Linked DNA regions of Homo sapiens. The protein of the gene in region 1 interacts with the protein of each later gene in a biochemical or structural test. Each region holds a gene or a part of one and is shown on either strand. Other genes may lie near its edges.

Region 1 (9,952 bases):
TTTAAAGGGAATTGGATTAGGAAATTTTCTAAGTATTGTTTTGTGGAAATGTGTGTCTGTTACATGTGTGCATGCCTGTATATATGTGTATGTGTGCTGGATTTGAATCAAGGATAAAAATTAATTTCTGACCATGGTAGTTTATTTTACCAGGAGGTTCCAGTGCATTTTTCTAAATCTAACAACATACATGGTTATTTATGTTCCTAAACCATTTCAGAAAAATTTTCTCTTTTCCGTTGCCAACTTATATCCATACGATTTGGAGGATAGGTTATTTTCAGGTTTACTTTCTTGAAAGAAAAAAATCTTCATTCCTACATTCCATACTTCTGAGGTTCCCCTTAAGCAGAATAAGAACCGTAGTGCTAGAAGACATACGGTCCAAATTAATTACGATATTATTTACTCAAAAAGAGGCTGTGCCAGATTCCACATGGATATGGATAAAGAACTCCATTTTTTCTCTCTTTTCTCTCAAGAGTGTAATTTAAAAAAAAAAAGTACCAGCCACATAGGAAGGCTACTCAAAGTATGCATATTGAGTAGCATCGTGCTCTTACTGGCTCAAATTTAGATTTTTCACCCAAATAAACACAGAAGAGCATGACTGTTAGGTACTGTAGGCCAAAAGGACAAACACTGAAGTCTCTTGTCAAGTTTATTTTATTCATTCTATGATGTACTCTCAGTACTTTTTTTTTTTTTGAGACAAAGTCTCGCTCTGTTGCCCAGGCTGGAGTGCAGTGGCACCATCTTGGCTCACTGCAACCTCCACCTCCGTGTTCAAGTGATTCTCCTGCCTCAGTCTCCAGAGTAGCTGGGATTACAGGCATGCACCACCACACCCAACTAATTTTTGTATTTTTAGTAGAGATGGGGTTTCGCTGTGTTGGCCAGGCTGGTCTTGAACTCCTGGCCTCAAGTTATTCACCTGCCTGGGCCTCCCAAAGTGCTGGGATTACAGGCCTGAGCCACCATGCCCGGCCCCTTATTCTTTAATACTTTTGTAAAATGGCATTTTTTTTCTGACGTTCACTCTAGTTTATCTAAATAATGCCCAAGTGCGATACTATTTAGACTATTCTAAATAATTTAATTTATAAGCTTTGCAAATGGAGAATAATCACATGATTATCTGATTAACACTGTGCCCTGTATAGTGCCTACCTTCTCCCCACATGAAATTTTAATCCAAAGAGTCTTGAATATATACTCTTATCACAAGAAAAAATTTGTTAAAGATTCTAGCATGATATACATGTTGCCTTTGGATATCCTTTAGGTTTAGAAAACAAATAACTTGCCTGTAGAGATATATAAAGTGACTTGAATATTTTAAGTTAAAATAACCAAGTATTGAAATACAAAAAACAGCCCTGTAAATTTAGAGATGTTAATATTTATCTGGCCCTGACTAGAGTTTAACTCCAAATGCTAGAGAAATCAGTCTGGTAGGTGTGGTCAATGTGGTGACTAGGGGTTCGGGAAACTAAGGAGCACTAGTAATCAAGAGCTAAGCATTTCAAATTGGGGTCTGTTTCAAATAAAAGTTATTAAATATTACCTAGAAATAATCACGCTTATTAATAAACAGATGCTTGACAAACGATGAATATTTCTCACCACCACAAAATCTAATAACTTAATTTATCCATCAAAGGGTTGTATTCTGTTGCCTACACTTTCCATACACTGACTCCAAATTTCATAAAAATAACTGTTTTAAAGAACCTGCTGAGGGCGGGCACAGTGGCTCACGCCTGTAATCCTAGCACTTTGGGAGGCCAAGGCAGGTGGATTACCTGAGGTCAGGAGTTGGAGACCAGCCTGGGCAACATGATGAAACCCTGTCTCTACTAAAATACAAAAATCTAGCTGGGCATGGCAGTGTATGCCTGTAATCCCAGCTACTCGGGAGGCTGAGGCAGGAGAATTGCTAGAGCCTGGGAGGCAGAGGTTGCAGTGAGCTGAGATCGCACCACTGCACTCCAGCCTGGGTGACACAGCGATACTCCCTCTTTTAAAAAAACTTGTTGAGTGTTCTGAGGAATTATCCTTAGACAGCATCTTGCTTCTTTGCTATGCATGAAGAAAAAGATTTCCTAGTCCCTTCTACACAGTTAGCAGACATTTTTTAAGACTTTCAGTAAAAATTTACCATTTTATTTTTCAGCGATCATATTGGAAATATGGCCCAAAGTGACTTCCTTTACCCAGAGAACCCAAAAAGGCGGGAAGAAGTAAATCGTCTTCACCAGCAGCTTCTTGATTGCTTATCTGACAGCTTCGATGTCACCAATAAGCTGACTGAGGTTCTAAATATGCACTTGGGGTGCAGGCTGGCCTCCATTGAGATGAAAAGAGATGGGACCATCAAAGAAAACTGTGACCTCATCATCCAAGCCATTATGAAAATCCAAAAGGAATTGCAGAAGGTTGATGAAGCACTAAAAGATAAGCTAGAGCCAACCCTCTATAGAAAACTTCAGGATATTAAGGAAAAGGAAACAGACAAAATTGCAATAGTGCAAAAGGTTATTTCGGTCATCCTGGGAGAAGCTACATCTGCAGCCAGTGCAGTCGCTGTTAAACTTGTGGGCTCAAATGTCACAACTGGCATAATTAACAAGTTGGTCACTGTGTTAGCTCAAATTGGTGCTTCTCTCCTTGGTAGTATTGGAGTTGCTGTTCTTGGCCTTGGCATAGATATGATTGTCCGTGCCATCCTGGGAGCAGTGGAAAAAACACAGCTTCAAGCAGCCATCAAAAGTTATGAGAAGCATCTGGTGGAGTTCAAATCAGCCTCAGAAAAATATAATCATGCCATTACTGAGGTCATCAATACAGTGAAACACCAAATGAAATGAACAGCCGTTTTATTTGCCACTGAAGTGTTTTTCTGCTTCCTTTTCAGTAACAGTGTTTGCTTCTTTGATTAGGTTCATTTTCTATAGGCTTCCAATATGGACTTAAATAAGATAAACAATTTGGAGAGGGAAACTGGAGATGCCAAGACTAGATGACTAGATGAGTTTTGAGTCAACAATGCCTGGATCAGCTGATGCTAGACCCTGTGAGGTAAAAAAATTTTCTCCCTGGATGTTTTCACACCCTGCTCTACCAGATCAACATTGGGGTAAATGCTATCGTAGAGTAGCAAGTATAGGGGTTACTTTTCTCTTTTCTAATTTCAGTAAAATTCTTAAATTTCACATTGAATGCAGAGACTTTCATTTCTACCACCAGCTTCAAACATCATTTAGTTATAAGGGGACATACTCAGTAACTTCTGCCTAGACACAAACTCTAGGCCTTCGAATGAGACAGAAATACTACCATATTTTTGACCATCAGAGTAAATCTGGTTTTCTGTAAACTAGAAGAGACTGAAAAATGGTTTGTAACAATGTGCTTCAATTAGGACAGGAAGCTGATCTGTAAACGTCTACTGATTACACAATGTAAACCGGATGGATTTGAAAATGGTAAAAATCAAAACTAAAAACATCAAGGTCCTGTTTCAGTCACTGCAATCAACCCTGACCAACTGTGATAATTAAATATCGCTCAAGTGAATGTTCAAACACTGAAACATTTAGAAGACAAGAAAGCAAAACACAGCTACACATATTGCATTTAGGATGCAGAATAGAAGGTCACTACTCAAAGCATTTGTCATTTAAAAGAAAGTCATAATTTATTATAAGCTTTCAGAAAAAAGAATATAATTTCATTTTCAACACTAGCAAAAAGGAGGCAGCTGCCTTTGCTACATGACGCATTAGGTGGGCCATTTCACTAATTACCTGATTTTAGAAAACGCCAAAGGCTATGGAAGCCTATTAATGGTTCCGCTGAATCTCTGCAGATGTGTTTGTTTTCTAAATCCTTTGCCAACCAATAATTCCCATGAGGACTCTTTTAGTCTATACTGACAAAATTATTAATATGCTGTTGATGCCAGACTGTGTTTGTTATAGTTGATTCTCCCATCCAAGTACAAGAAATGTATTGAAATAAAAACTGCTCAGCATATCTTAAAAATAGTAGCTACATATAAAATTTTAGCTACATGAAAGACTTTAATATTTCCAACATACACTGTTTTCTCTTTCTCTTCTTGCATTGTTTTTCAAAACGAGTTGCAAAACTATGATCACTAATGTGTTAGGAAAGAAAAAAAACTAGTTGCAAAACATTACAACTTAGCTCACCTTCGCAGTTCAAGATTATTTTCTTTTTTATGTACTACCTGGTTTATCAGCTTTAACCTACAATATCTCGTCATTGCTTTCTGACACTCAAATTCAGTCTAAAATCAAATCAAGAATTTCCTAACACAAAGGTAAGTTTAGGTATAGGACCGATCTTATACCTTCAAGGGCAGTTTAAAGATTCTGCTAAAAATTAGTATGTATCTCCATCAATATTTTGAAATATTTATAACTGGTGGTAAGAATAGCCTTCCTACATGGGATAGTCAGGTTAAGATTAGAAATAACCAAGCGTATCCTCTAAGATAGTTTTTTAAATGTTTAAACTTACCTTTAAGGGAAATAAGTGGGGGCTGACTCACGGAAAGAGGGGATAGAAGGTAGGGAAAGGGCGAAGGCTAGAGTTAAGTGAAGAATCCCGTACGTAGAGTGACATCATAGAGGACTTTTGGCTGGTGAAAAGACCAGTCGGGAATATAGCCAATATATATCAACCTTGCCACTCATATAACTTAAAACCGACTGCATATGTATCCCCGTATTTCTTCTTCAAAACACTACTAACAAATAATAAATCACCGCCCATATAAGCAATCTGCGACTCTAATACGGGTGCTAATTTATTTGTTCAGGTGGTCTACAAACGTTCTGTTCTGCCTGTCTATTAAATTTCCACACGTACTAGGCGCTCACATGGGATAACCTGATGCTTACAAAGCGGATTAAACTCAGTGGCAAATGTTATCTGGGTATTCGTTTACACACGGAGACACCCCTAAAGGATCGCACCTGCTTGGGTCATAAGAAACAGAAAAATGCAAAAACTAAGGTAATTCCAAAAGACAGAAAACGCAGAACGCTTCTTTATCTGCAGAATGTACCGTTCTCGGACGGCTCAACGTACCAGGCTCCCAGCAACTAAGTCAAGATGCCTCCAACTCGAGAGACAGGACCGTCAGCCACTCAGTTAGCAGCTATCTTCTTCTAATTCCTATTGTACTAGATGAGCGCAATGAGGCGGGCTCTTAGCCGACAACCAACCAATTGAGTATTGTATGGAACCGGAAGAGACTCTGGTCCTGGAATTCTTGGGTATTCTCTATGGTTCCAGGGTCAAGCGGCGCTAAGAGAAGGCGGGACAGAGGAATGGGAAATGACGTGAGGAGTGCGGAGGGGCGCGAGGTTTCAAGATGGCGGTAGCTGAGGGGTTGACCGAGAGACCCAGTTGAAGGCCTTTACGAAGTGAAAGAGGCCGGGAGTCGCCCCCTACCCGCTTCTCGTAGTCCTGGGAGCACAGCAGAAGTGTGAGTGTATTGAATTGATTTACTACTCTTCCTCACCTCTTTCGTCCCTTCCACGTCCCGCGCAGCGGCTTGGGGGACACCCAGCCCCTTTGCCCCGCTCCTCCTCTCCCTGGTTGAGGTCTCCCTGTTGCGGACTGGGCTATTCCTGGGCCTGGGGTGGCGCGGCGACCAGTGGTTGCGCGGTTGGCATCGCCCGGGTCGGTTGGGGCCGCTTCTTACGCACGTTGATTAGTAGCCTTAGGTTTGACGTCTTGTACCTCGAGTCATGGTCGGTCAGCCGTCGCTATGGTTTCGTCAGTTGCTGGTGTTGCCTCCTTTGGTGAACCTGGACCCTATCCCATTGAAGCTTCTTTGGCTGTTTAGAGTTATCCAACGCTTATTTGGCTTGATTTTCCAGTCGCCTCCGCTTGTAGACAAAAAACTAATCTGCAGACTTAAGCTCCAGTGTCTTCCGTAAAATTCTCTGTAATTCGTATCCGTTGTGTTTCATTTGTGGGGGAGGAGATTCAGAACATGAGCCTGAGGAAACTTGAGAAAGGAAAGCACAAAAAACGCAGGCAATCAAAGATGGGAGAGCTTGTATATGTACTGATTTTGCTTGTTTTCCTCCTTCCCTACCTCCTACTCCCTGCTGCTCTCCCACCCCCCTAACCCCCCCATCCCCAGTTTTTCTTAGAAGGAAACCACTTGACAGGGTGTATGGTAGCTAGGCCAGGAATATGGATCCATTATAAAGATTTTAGTTAAGTAGTGAGTCAAACATCACAGGATATTTTATTTGTAATCTCATTGTATCATCAGAGCTTTGTTATAAAGTAATTGATGTCCCCATTTTTTAGATGAGGAAGCTAAAAATCAGAGCCTTTGATACCGCTGTCTTGAAGTAATTGCCACCAGAACAGCTGTGAAACATCTGGCTTTCTGAAACATCTGGCTTTCGGGGCAGTTGGACACTTGGTGAAAGAGACATTAACTGTAATAAACTGGGCTGACAAAATCTTCCCTTTCTTACCTTTAAAAAGTGTCTACTTGCAAAAGGAAGCAAATTTGTCCGCCTTTATTACTGGAAAGACTGCGCTTCAAAAAATTAAGCCCCATTATTTTGGAATAAGAGGAAGAAGTCATGTAATAGGGTACTGTGTTAATAAAAGTTTTAGCTTACAAAATATTTTTTCCTCAAACAAAAATAAGTATTCCCTTTAATTACCTTAAGAAATATATATTGGGAGTCAGGTCTTAGTAAGAAAAATATGTGTCTTAATATTTAAGTTTTGGGGAGCTCTCAGTATAGCACTAATTTCAAATATTTGCATTTTTAGTTGTGTTTTGAACTCTTGAGAGTCAAGCATTATATCTGAACTAGAACTGAATCTGAATTAAATATGCTTAAATTAATGAGTTTTTAGTGTCTTAGAAGTATTGAGAATGTACAGCATACATGCCAAGAAAAACCATGGAGAGAGGCAAAGGTGAGGTATGTGTTTTGAGCCTAGATCCATTACCCCCATTCCCTTCTTATTCTTCTTTTACAATTACATGTTAATAAAGGGAGGTTATAGAAGAAGGACTAATGAATTCTGATGTTCATGGTTTGTGCCATATCGTTAAAGCATTTTCTAGTTGTTTTTATCAGTTGACAAAGTCAGTGCTGTGATCCATAAGAAAAAAGCTAAACTGATGACTTGAGGATATTCAAAGTGGTCTTCACACTCATCACATTTCTGAAGAATGATAGAGATCTAAATTTTCATGGTCAAGAAAGGTGATGCCATCTTTCTTGGACATTAAAGTCAAAACTAAGGAAAGAACAGTCTCACAGAATTTCTAATTAAAGGAATTTTTTTTCAGAGATTGGTAGGGACTAGAAAAAGGAAGAAATACATTTAGGAGATATAAGCTATTTCTTTGTCTTCACCTTCACAGGTTTTTCTTTTTTTAATGAACAAGTAAACCATACAAATTGTCAACATGGGACGGAGATCTACATCATCCACCAAGAGTGGAAAATTTATGAACCCCACAGACCAAGCCCGTAAGTGTCCATTAGTGTGGAATGATGAAGTAGGAGAGTGTTAAAAATTGCAAATATTAGGGAATTTCTTTCTCTGTGGCTTAATTACAAGACCAGCAGTGATAGGAGGAATAAATTATATATTCAGGGTTTGTATGGGCACATTAAGACTTTAAATATGCAAAGAAATTAGTACCCGTATTTTATTTTTCAAATTTGATTGACTTGCAAAGTAGAATTGGCTGAAATCTTTCTTTTTATATTGGAAATTTTGAGCAAATTAGTTTTGCGAGCCCTTGTTTCGCGTTTTATGTTATGTTTTTCCTTCAGATTCATAGTTGTTTTTTATGAAACATTAAACAAAAATGTCTTGACATTTTTGGTTGTCATAATTAGAGGGATGCTCTTGGCATGTAGTGGAGAGAATCCAAAGATGCTGCTCTTTTACAGTGCATACTGTAACTTTCCACAATAAAGAATTACCTGTATTAAATTGGAGGAAATGCTAATGTTCAAGATTCAAAGATTTTATTATATCTCCCTCTCTCCTTTTAAAGGAAAGGAAGCCCGGAAGAGAGAATTAAAGAAGGTATGATTTTAGAGGCATCTTATAAAACTTTAAGTATTGTTTGGTACATCTTGTGATTTGGGATTAGTGGGTTTCAGAATAACATTTCTAATATTTTCTAGAAAAGGTACTTTATGCTTTTTATAAAAACTGTAAGATATACTAAGCCAAACTTTATTTAGGAACTGAAGTAACTTTGCAGAGAAGCTCACTACAGGTTATAATGCCATTGTTTGATTACTTTTCCCAGTGAGTTAAAAAATACTTTTGAAAATAATTCTTTTTTTTACTCATTAAAACATAACTGTTTTAAAGTCTACTGATGAGGATGGAAATAAACATGATGCTAGATAGCTTTATCCATTTTCCTGATTAGCTGTCTATTACATATATTACATTAGCTTAAATATATATATGTAGGTTTATAATATTTATAGATATATTAGATTTATATATCCATTTTCCCAATTAGCATTCTCCTCTTAGCTGTTGAATTTGTGGCAAAGTACTTCAAAAGAATTAGAAAGGATTTGCCTTATAGTATTGTGCTTTATAGTATTATAGTATAATACATTGAAGCAACACAGATTTTAAATAATGTTCGATTGTGTTTTCATGTTTAGCATTAACTCCTGCAAAATTTTTAAATATTCTTTATATAATTTTAGAATTTAGCTTCAACCTTTGCTTTGGACTTCAACTAGCAGAGGTTTTACAACAGGGGGCAGGAACAATCACCCAAGGTCTTCAAGAACATAAGGGGTTAAAAAAAAGAAATTTAAAGTGTATGTGTGTTTAAGTAACTGCTAAAGATCTCAGAGTTCAAAGAAATACTTTACTAAGAAAGCACATCTTAAAAATAGCATTTCTTTATCTTTTTGACAAGTGTAAACATTTTTAAGGCAAAAAATTACATAGCTGTTTCTGGTGGTTGAAACAAGTGATCAGAAGCCAAGGAGTTATTCTGTTTAGATTCTTAAAGCAAGTTGAAGTAAAACTCCTGAGTGCCTGACTTCTTGACATCTGCCCTTTTATTTTTCTAAGAACAAAAAACAGCGCATGATGGTTCGAGCTGCAGTTTTAAAGATGAAGGATCCAAAACAGATAATCCGAGACATGGAGAAATTGGATGAAATGGGTAAGAATTTACAAACAGGCAGCTATAACAGTCTGACACGTACAGAGGCAGGCAGGTAACGAGTGAAGCAGCATAGGCGTAAGTAAAACAGAACAGCATGATGGCATTTGATGCTTGGATTTAATGTTAGTTTCAGGGAGACAAAATGGAGTGCTAGAGGGCTGTTGCAAACTGGAGACCCCAGATACCAGAATAAGAGGGAAGCGATTATTTGGCTTTCAGTTAATTGTTATTGTGAGATAACAGAAGCACAGTTTGGCCAGCTTGCTTTTTGGGAGAAGACTTAATCTGATTTATGAAATAACCTTGGGTTTTTTGTTTGTCGTCTTTTATTTAATGTTGGCAACTACCATGTAAATCTAAGTATTAGGCCCCTGTGAATATAAGGCAATTTCCAATTTTTCCAATCAGAAGATCCAAAAAGATACTTATCCATTTAGTAAGGATATAGAAAAAAATCATCAAATACCTAAAAACCAAATAATAAAATACTATACCAGGATTCTCTGCCTTTTTCACATTTTATAGAATAGTTTTATTCACTCTTCATATGCATTTTAAGTATCGCTGCTTTGTTATAACTGGAATCACATGAAATAGCTGCATGTTATCTTTTTTTGCATCTAAGTTTGAAAATCATTGATGTTGCCACTGGAAATTTTATCCTAACCCACAAATATCCATTCTGTTTAATATTAGAACATGTAGAATATT
Region 2 (2,714 bases), on another chromosome or scaffold:
AAACCAGATAGCTTTGGCTAACAGTAGAACTCATCATCTGAACCCAGACACAGATTTAGGTAACCTTTTTTTGTAAACCTCCTAATATAGAGAGTTGGATTTGGAATGTGAAAGATACTTCATATTCTTCCCGGCACACACACACACGTGTCTTTTATGTGTGGCTTGTGTGAATGTGAGTGCGTGTCTCTAGGCTCTACATGTAGGATGAGGTCCCCTGGTCCTTATCTGCTCTCCTCATCCCCACCTTGTTCTACCAGAACCAGAGGAAGAGATCATTGCCGAGGACTATGACGATGATCCTGTGGACTACGAGGCCACCAGGTTGGAGGGCCTACCACCAAGCTGGTACAAGGTGTTCGACCCTTCCTGGTGAGCCTGGGTGAGGGGGAGCTAACTTCTGGCTTCACCCTTCCTGTGCTGACCTTGGTTGTGAGGTTTAGGGGGACACAAGGGAGGGAGCCTCGGGTGGAGGGTGTTGGCATTAGGTATCTGCAGGACTCAAGTTGCTGCCTGCTGGGGCCTGGCTCCTCTGGGGTTGGAAGACTGTCTTTTCTCTCTTTTTTGAAACGGAGTTTCACTCTTGTAGCCCGGGCTGGAGTGCAATGGTGTGATCTCGGCTTATGGCAACCTCCGCCTCGTGGGTTCAAGCGATTCTCCTGTCTCAGCCTCCCAGGTAGCTGGGATTACAGGTGCACACCACCACACCCAGCTAATTTTTGTATTTTTTGTAGAGATGGGGTTTCATCATATTGGTCAGGCTGGTCCCGAACTCCTGACCTCAGGTGATCCGCCTGCCTCGGCCTCCCAAAGTGCTGGGATTACAGGCATGAGCCACCACGCCCAGCTGACAGTGTTTTCTCTTCAGGAGAAGAGATTCTGGGGATCCTGCCTGTGGGGTCCTGACATGGGGCAGGTATAGGCAGAGACTGGGGAGACAAGAGTTGAGGATCCAAGGCAAGGACATCTGTGCTGACACTTCTTTCCTGCGGCCCCACAGCGGGCTCCCTTACTACTGGAATGCAGACACAGACCTTGTATCCTGGCTCTCCCCACATGACCCCAACTCCGTGGTTACCAAATCGGCCAAGAAGCTCAGAAGCAGTAATGCAGGTGAGTTGGCAGGTACAAGCGTGCCTTGAGTGATCTTAGCAGTTCTCACGGAGAGGCCAAGTAGAATGATAGTGGATCAGAGGGGCAGGTGAGACCAGGCGGGCCCAGCCTCAGGCAAGGGAGGTTGTTGAAGGCAGAGGCTGCTGGGTCCTGGGGTGGCAAGAGGTCACTTCAAGACTTGTGTCCCCAGATGCTGAAGAAAAGTTGGACCGGAGCCATGACAAGTCGGACAGGGGCCATGACAAGTCGGACCGCAGCCATGAGAAACTAGACAGGGGCCACGACAAGTCAGACCGGGGCCACGACAAGTCTGACAGGGATCGAGAGCGTGGCTATGACAAGGTAGACAGAGAGAGAGAGCGAGACAGGGAACGGGATCGGGACCGCGGGTATGACAAGGCAGACCGGGAAGAGGGCAAAGAACGGCGCCACCATCGCCGGGAGGAGCTGGCTCCCTATCCCAAGAGCAAGAAGGGTAAGCTGGGCAGAATGGGGCTCGGTGAGACCAACAAGGTGCAGGGTGCACTGCGTGAGGAAGCCTTCCCTCAAAAAGATGCCTGGACCTGGGGCTAGAGGAGGGTGCTGTGGTACATGGCAGCCAGGGGCTTCATTTCTTCTTGTGGGGTGGGGCTCAGTGATCAGGGGATCCTGGTGCCTCTATTGAAGACTTTGCCCTGCCACTTCCACAGCAGTAAGCCGAAAGGATGAAGAGTTAGACCCCATGGACCCTAGCTCATACTCAGACGCCCCCCGGTAAGTGACAACCCCTCTTGACTCAGTACGTGGACACCATCCTCCGGCCTCCTTCCTCCATTCCTCATTGGGACCAGGTGGGCTGTGTCCGCCACATCACCCATCCCCATCCCCTGACTCTTTCACCGGCAGGGGCACGTGGTCAACAGGACTCCCCAAGCGGAATGAGGCCAAGACTGGCGCTGACACCACAGCAGCTGGGCCCCTCTTCCAGCAGCGGCCGTATCCATCCCCAGGGGCTGTGCTCCGGGCCAATGCAGAGGCCTCCCGAACCAAGCAGCAGGATTGAAGCTTCGGCCTCCCTGGCCCTGGGTTAAAATAAAAGCTTTCTGGTGATCCTGCCCACCATACCTGAGTGCTTCCTTTGAGGCTGCCCAACCCAAGTCGGCAAGATACACAACACATTTTATTTGCAAAAACTCAGCTAAGAGATAGTGTGGAGCTGGCAGGGGCTGGGGGGCTGAGCTGAGGTGGGTCATGAGAGAGCTTAGTCATGTTGGCCCTGGGTGGGGCAGGGGTGGTGGGGACAGGGAGTCCAGTGTCTACCTCACTCTACCCCTAATACTGATCAGAGTTTGGTCCCAGCTGGGCCAAGGGCAAGAAGAGAGAACGAGGCCAGGCCAATGTCTTCAATCCCAGCGGCTAGGAACCCTTCACCTTGGTGAGCAACCTGTGGTGGGAATGGGGAGGAAAGAAAAACACAAAGCTGGGCTAGGCTGGCAGGCGGGTTTCCTGAGCAAGTGAGGGCGGCGGTGGTGAGGCTGGTAGTCCTGGGGTTAGTAATGGTGCCCACCTGGTCAGAAAGCTACACGTGGACTAAATAAATACAACATCTTTATTTGGCATTG

Evidence for each region. Proteins that work in one complex are often made in the same cells at the same time.
Region 2: the proteins of WBP11 (region 1) and PQBP1 form a complex in vitro, tested with the Homo sapiens proteins (2 studies listed by BioGRID and IntAct, with this or other methods).

Annotation. Positions count from the first base shown.
Region 1 is NC_000012.12:14,798,921-14,808,872, reverse strand, and holds the start of WBP11 (WW domain-binding protein 11), read left to right. Parts: upstream 1-5,394; 5' UTR 5,395-5,521; intron 5,522-7,444; 5' UTR 7,445-7,489; coding exon 7,490-7,553; intron 7,554-8,089; coding exon 8,090-8,121; intron 8,122-9,144; coding exon 9,145-9,238; intron 9,239-9,952. Other genes in the region: SMCO3 (single-pass membrane and coiled-coil domain-containing protein 3), read left to right, coding at 2,193-2,870. UniProt on the Homo sapiens protein: Activates pre-mRNA splicing. May inhibit PP1 phosphatase activity.
Region 2 is NC_000023.11:48,900,930-48,903,643, forward strand, and holds the end of PQBP1 (polyglutamine-binding protein 1), read left to right. Parts: intron 1-260; coding exon 261-372; intron 373-1,000; coding exon 1,001-1,113; intron 1,114-1,303; coding exon 1,304-1,588; intron 1,589-1,802; coding exon 1,803-1,866; intron 1,867-1,998; coding exon 1,999-2,155; 3' UTR 2,156-2,214; downstream 2,215-2,714. UniProt on the Homo sapiens protein: Intrinsically disordered protein that acts as a scaffold, and which is involved in different processes, such as pre-mRNA splicing, transcription regulation, innate immunity and neuron development.